2 linked regions of the Homo sapiens genome follow. The protein of the gene in region 1 purifies or fractionates together with the protein of each later gene. This does not show direct contact. Each region holds a gene or a part of one and is shown in the gene's direction. Other genes may lie near its edges.

Region 1 (3,500 bases):
AAGTTGAGAGAAATCATTATAAATGTGAGCAGTAGCATTTGCAAAGACCTTGAGATGGGAACATTTATAAGAACATGGGAATGAAATTTGTTTGACTGGATTAGGAGAATGTTGAAGTTGGGTGAGATGGAGAGTCTAGTAGACCCTGCTTCTGGCAGGTGGCTATTTGCAAGGTTGTGTCATATTCCCCTGGGAATAGCCAGAAAATGCTGGTAGGGGCTAGGATAATTCTTCCCTTCTCCCCACGGGGAGGGATACAGCTTTTCTTTCATCTTGGGTTCCCTTAGGAGGTGTTTGGTGATGACTCTGAGATCTCTAAAGAATCATCAGGAGTAAAGAAGCGACGAATACCCCGTTTTGAGGAGGTGGAAGAAGAGCCAGAGGTGATCCCTGGGCCTCCATCAGAGAGCCCTGGCATGCTGACTAAGCTCCAGGTTAGTGATTAGGGACTGGAAGCAAAGTGGTTTTGTGAGTTGAAGAAGCAAAAGGTGCATGGGTCTGTATTTATTGTGGAATTTTTTTTTTTTTTTTTTTTTTGAGGTGGAGTTTTGCTCTTGTCACCCAGGCTGGAATACAGTGGCGCGATCTCAGCTCACTGCAACCTCCGCCTCCCGGGTTCAAGCAAATCTCCTGTCTCAGCCTACTGAGTAGCTGGGATTAGAGGCACCCACCACCAAGCCTGGCTAATTTTTGTATTTTTAGTAGAGATGGGGTTTCACCATGTTGGCCAGGCTGGTCTTGAACTCCTGATGTCAGGTGATGCACTCACCTTGGCCTCTCAGAGTGCTAGAATTACAGGAGCGAGCCACTGCGCCCGGCTAATTTTTTGTATTTCTTTTAGTAGAGACAGGGTTTCACCATGTTGGGCAGGCTGGTCTTCAACTTCTGACCTCAGGTCATCTGCCCACCTTCGCCTCCCAGAGTGCTGGGATTATAGGCGTGAGCCAGCGTGCCTCGCCTTATTGTGATCTTGATTTGAATTAGTGTTTAGCATTTGGGGTAAACTTTTTTTTTTGAGATAGAGTTTCACTCTGTTGCCCATGCTGGAGTGTAGTGGCGTGATCTCAGCTCACGGCAACCTCCACCTCCCAGGTTCAAGCGATTCTCCTGCCTAAGCCTCCGGAGTAGCTGGGACTACATGCGAACACCACTACGCCTGGCTAATTTTTGTATTTTTAGTACAGATGGTATTTTGTCATGTTGGCCAGGCTGCTCTGGAACTCCTGGCCTCAAGTGATCTGCCACCTCAGCCGCCCAAATGGCTGGGATTACAGGTGTGAGCCACCATGCCAGGCCAGCATTTGGGAAAATTTTATTTCCTGCTTTATGTTTTAGCGTTCTTTGATTTGACCAGGAGTATTCTAGGTAAGGGTATTGAAATTGCCATTTACTGTGGCAAGCAAAGTGTGTTATGTACATTATTTGCCTAATTACCTATGTCGTTGAGTCATTGAGAAAATTAAATGAAATGATCAGAACTCATCTTAATGACAGAGGAGACTCTCCAAACATAATGCAAAGAAGATATAATCCACTGATAAATAATTTTAAGTTGACTTTATTTTTTTTTAACAGGAAGTATTTGTGTTTTTTCAATTGGCATTGTTAAATAATACCACATAAGTGTTTCTTTTACCATTTAATATTTGAGGGGGGTAATAGAACATATACAGAAATATGGGTGGGTGGATTTGCATATATGTGATATTTACAGAAGGAAAGAAATGGATTTTTTTTGTGTGTGTGTGTGAGATGTTCTCTCTGTCACTCAGGCTGGAGCGCAGTGGTGCGATCTCGGTTCACTGCAGCCTCTGCCTCCCAGGTTCAAGTGATTCTCCTGCCTCAGCCTCCTAAGTAGCTGGGATTATAGGCATGTGCCACCACGCACGGCTAATTTTTGTATTTTTAGTAGAGACAGGGTTTCACCATGTTGACCAGGCTGGTCTGGAACTCCTGACCTCAAGTGATCTGCCTACCTTGGCCTCCCAAATTGCTGGGATTATAGGCGTGAGCCACCGTACCTAGCCTGTTTTTGTTTTTCAGGCAAGGTCTCACTTTTTTGTCCAGGCTGGAGTTCAGTGGCGAGATCTTGGCTTACTGCAACCTCTGCCTCCCGGGCTTGAGTGATCCTCCCACCTTGGCTTCCCAAGTAGCTGGGACTACAGGTCACCATGCCTGGCTGATTTTTGTATTTTTTTTAAAGATTGAGTTCCACCATGTTGCCCAGGCTGGTCTTGAACTCCTGGGCTGAAATGATCCTCCTGCCTCAGCCTCCCAAAGTGCTGGACTTACAGGCGTGAGCTACCACGCCCAGCCAATTATTTTCTTTTTTGGGGGGTGGGGGATGGAGTCTTGCTCTGTCACTTAGGCTGGAGTACGGTGGCGCGTTCTCGGCTCACTGCAACCTCTGCCTCCCGGGTTCACGCCATTCTCCTGCCTCAGCCTCCTGAGTAGCTGGGACTACAGGTATGTACCACCATGCCCGACTAATTTTTTGTATTTTTAGTAGAGATGGGGTTTCACCATGTTAGCCAGGATGGTCTTGATCTCCTGACCTCGTGATCCACCCGCCTCGGCCTCCCAAAGTGCTGGGATTACAGGCATGAGCCACCGTGCCAGGCCCAATGATGTTTTTTATGGAGAATGGGGATGGACGTATTCACAACATATCCTTTTGTTATGTTTCTTTCTTTTTTTTTTTTGAGACGGAGTCTCACTCTGTCGCCCAGAGTGGAGTGTAATGGCGCTATCTCGGCTCACTGCAACCTCCGCCTCCCGGGTTCAAGCTATTCTTCTGCCTCAGTCCCTTGAGTAGCTGGGATTACAGGCACGCGCCACCACGCCTAGCTAATTTTTTTGTATGTTTAGTAGAGACGGGGTTTCACCATGTTGGTCAGGCTGGTCTCGAACTCCTGACCTCGTGATCCGCCCGGCTCGGCCTCCCAAAGTGCTGGGATTACAGACGTGAGCTGCCAGGCCCAGCCTGTAATTTTTCATTTTATTTTATTTTATTTTTTGAGACGGAGTCTCGCTCTTGCACTGTTGCCTAGGCTGGAGTGCAATGCCGTGATCTCAGCTCACTGCAACGTCCGCCTCCTGGGTTCCAGCAGTTCTCCTGCCTCAGCCTCCTGAGTAGCTGAGATTACAGAACGTGCATCACCATGTCCAGCTAATTTTTGTATTTTTAGTAGAGATGGGGTTTCACCCTGTTAGCCAGGATGGTCTCGATCTCCTGACCTCGTGATCCACCTGCCTCAGCCTCCCAAAGTATTGGGATTACAGGCGTGAGCCACCACGCCCAGCCCTGTAATTTTTAATTTTTTTATTTTCTTTCTTTCTTTACTTATTTAGAGATGGAGTCTCCCCCTGTTGTCCAGGCTGGAGTGCAGTGGCATGATCTTGGCTCACTGTAACCTCCACCTTCTGGATTCAAGCGCTTCTCCTGCCTCAGCCTCCTGAGTAGCTGGCATTACAGGCGCCCACCACCACACCCGGCTAAT
Region 2 (3,500 bases), on another chromosome or scaffold:
TGGAGGCTAAGGCAGGGGGATCACCTGAGCCTGAGGGATCACTTGAGCCCAGGAGGTTGAACCTGCAGTGAGCTGTGATCCCACCACTACACTCCAGCTGGGCAGCATAGCAAGAATGTCTCTTTAAAAAAAAAAAGGCAATTCAGTTGCAGTGGCTCATGACTGTAATTCCAGCACTTTTGGAGGCTGAGACAGAGGATCATTTGAGCCCAGGAGTTTAAGACCAGCCTGAACAACATAGTGAAACCCCATCTCTAAAAAAAAAAAATTATATTAGCCAAGCATGGTGACATTTGCCTGTAGTGCTAGCTACTGGGGAGGCTGAGGCAGGAGGATTGCTTAAGCTCACAAGGTTGAGGCAGGAGTGAGCTGTGATCACACCACTGCACTCTAGCCTGGGCAACAGAGCAAAATACCCTGTCTCAAAAACAGCAAGAAAAAAAAAGCCAATACCTGGAAACTTTGAACAGGGTGAAAAGAAGAAAACACGGAGGAGTCTGCTAAAGCACAAAACTTCTCTCTGGTCCTCAAATAAATAAAAATTTTTGGCCGGGCACGATGGCTCATGCCTGTAATCCCAGCACTTTGGGAGGCCAAGGCCAGCAGATCACGAGGTCAGGAGATCGAGACCATCCTGGCTAACACGGTGAAACCCCGTCTCTACTAAATATACAAAAAATTACCCAGACGAGGTGGTGGGTGTGTGTAGTCCCAGCTACTTGGGAGGCTGAGGCAGGAGAATGGCGTGAACCCAGGAGGTGGAGCTTGCAGTGAGCCGAGATCATGCCACTGCACTCCAGCCTGGCGACATAGAGTGAGACCCCGTCTCAAAAAAAAAAAAAATTTTTTTTTTTTACAATTCCACATTGTCATTTTCTTTTCCTCTGGTCTCAAACTCCTGGTCTCAGGCAATCCTCCCACCTCAGCCTCCCAAAGTGCTGGGACTACAGACAAGCCACTGTGCCCAGCCAGCTGCCTAGAAATTTCTGGACTTCAACCACACTGTAATTTTTTTTTTTTAATCAGTTTCTTCTATTTCCTTGAACTCAGTTTCCAGGAACTTCTGGTTTGGAAATTAGAGACCTGCCTTCCAGGTTAGTCTACAGAAAGTCTAGTTGTGTTCCACTGTGTCTTCATTGTCCTGCACACTCATGTGATACACTCAGGTGTTGTGGATTATGAGACCCAGAGAGAAACTTCCTGGTGATAATCGCACAAAGTATAGGAAAGAAACCTGGCAGTCTGTACAGTCCATTATTATTATGTGCTTAGTCCATTTGGTTAAATAATTTGAGATGCTTTTTTTTTTTTTTTTTTGAGATGGGGTCTTGCTCTGTCACCCAGACTGGAGTGCAGCGGTACAATCATGGCTCACTGCAGCCTCAAACTCCTGAGGGCTCAAGCAATCCTCCTGCCTTGGCCTTCAGAGTAGGCAGGATTTTTTTTTTTTTTTTTTTTTTTTTTTTTTGAGATGGAATCTTGCTCTGTCGCCAGGCTGGAGTACAGTGGCGTGATCTCAGTTGACTGCAACCTCTGCCTCCCAGGTTCAAGCGATTCTCTTGAGTAGCTGGGACTACAGGCACAGGCCACCACACCCAACCTTTTTTTTTTTTTTTGAGATGGAGTCTTGTTCTGTCACCCAAGCTGGAGTGCAGTGGTACGATCTCGGCTCACTGCAAGCTCCGCCTCCTGGGTTCACGCCATTCTCCTGCCTCAGCCTCCCTGAGTAGCTGGGACTACAGGCGCCCGCCACCATGCCTGGCTAATTTTTTGTATTTTTAGTAGAGACGGGGTTTCACCTTGTTAGCCAGGATGGTCTTGATCTCCTGACCTCGTGATCCGCCTGCCTCGGCCTCCCAAAGTCTGGGATTACAGGCGTAAGCCACCATGCCCGGCCTAATTTTTGTATTTTTAGTAGAGATGGGGTTTCACCGTGTTGGCCAGGATGGTCTCGATCTCTTGACCTCGTGATCCACCCGCCTCGGCCTCCCAAAGTACTGGGATTACAGGCGTGAGCCACTGCGCCTGGCTTAGTCCACCTATTTCTAATGTGACTGGGTCATTCATCAACCTCTGTGATATGGTTTAGCTGTGTCCCCACCCAAATTTTTTTGACTGTAGCTCCCATAATTCCCACGTTGTGGGAGGGACCCAGTGGGAGATAACTGAATCATGGGGGCGTTTTCCCCCATGCTGTTCTCATGGTAATAAGTCTCACATGATCTGATGATTTTATAAGGGGTTTCCCCTTTCACTTGGTTTTCATTCTCTCTGGCCTGCCACCATGAGACATGCCTTTCACCTTCTGCTGTGATTATAAGGCCTCCCCGGCCACATGGAACTGTGTGAGTCTATTAAACCTCTTTTTCTTTGTAAATTACCCAGTCTTGGGTATGTCTTTATCAACAGTGTGAAAATGGACTAAGACACCCTGTCAACATCATCTCTCTGCTCCAGTGCTGCATCTTCAGGAGCCCAGGTTCCAGATAAATGAACTGTAGTGGCAGCCAGTGGCCAGGAGATACCGGCAACCTAAATATAGTTTTCTTTTCGTTTCTTTTTTTTGGAGAGAGTCTCGCTCTGTCACCCAGGCTGGAGTGCAATGACATGATCTTGGCTCACTGCAACCTCCGCCTCCCAGGTTCAAGTGATTCTCCTGCCTCAGCCTGCTAAGTAGGTGGGATTACAGGCACGTGCCACCACGCCCGGCTCATTTTTGTACTTTCAATAGAGATGGGGTTTCAGCATGTTGGTCAGGCTGGTCTCAAACTCCTGACCTCATGATCCGCCCACCTCGGCCTCCCAAAGTGCTGGGATTACAGATGTGAACCACCTAATCTGGCCTTTTTATTTATTTATTTATTTATTTTGAGATGGAGTCTTGCTCTGTTGTCCAAGCTGGAGTGCCATGATACAATGACAGCTCACTACAGCCTCAACCTCCCAGGCTCAAGCAATCCTCCCACCCCAGCCTTCCAAGTATCTAGGGCTATAAGTGTGCACCATCACACCTGGCTATTTCTGTATTTTTTGTAGAGACAGGGTCACTATGTTGCCTGAGCTGGTCTCAAACTCCTGGGCTCAAGCAGTCCTTCCACTTTGGCATCCCAAAGTGTTGAGATTACAGGCATGAGCCACTGTGCCCAGCCTAATTTTTACTTTTGAACCTTGTAAATTGTCAAACATACACACACAAGGCAATTCCAAGGTTTGGTTGATTTGACTGGTAAAGATAGGAGGAGGCACTTTTAGATTTAGATGGTTTCTTACATAGACAGTGAAAAGAAAAGGAAGACCAAAGAGCCAGCTTCTCAGGTCCTTGTTTCATACACCAAAAAGGACAACACTGAAACAAAAAGGACTGGATGACCCCAGTGTGAGTTGTGGGATATTCTGTTGCTGGGGAATCAAATCTAGACTGTAGTAGCTAAGTGGCTTTTTTGTTGTTTTTAAATTTTACTTATTGAAGGGGTGGCCTGCCCCTCCACACCTGTGGGTAT

What was found. Proteins that work in one complex are often made in the same cells at the same time.
Region 2: the proteins of PRPF3 (region 1) and CENATAC purify together in Homo sapiens (affinity purification with mass spectrometry; 4 studies listed by BioGRID and IntAct, with this or other methods). This does not show direct contact.

Annotation. Positions count from the first base shown.
Region 1 is NC_000001.11:150,328,033-150,331,532, forward strand, and holds part of PRPF3 (U4/U6 small nuclear ribonucleoprotein Prp3), read left to right. Parts: intron 1-287; coding exon 288-434; intron 435-2,419; exon of another isoform or gene 2,420-2,466; intron 2,467-3,500. UniProt on the Homo sapiens protein: Plays a role in pre-mRNA splicing as component of the U4/U6-U5 tri-snRNP complex that is involved in spliceosome assembly, and as component of the precatalytic spliceosome (spliceosome B complex).
Region 2 is NC_000011.10:119,004,638-119,008,137, forward strand, and holds part of CENATAC (centrosomal AT-AC splicing factor), read left to right. Parts: intron 1-3,500. UniProt on the Homo sapiens protein: Component of the minor spliceosome that promotes splicing of a specific, rare minor intron subtype. Negative regulator of centrosome duplication.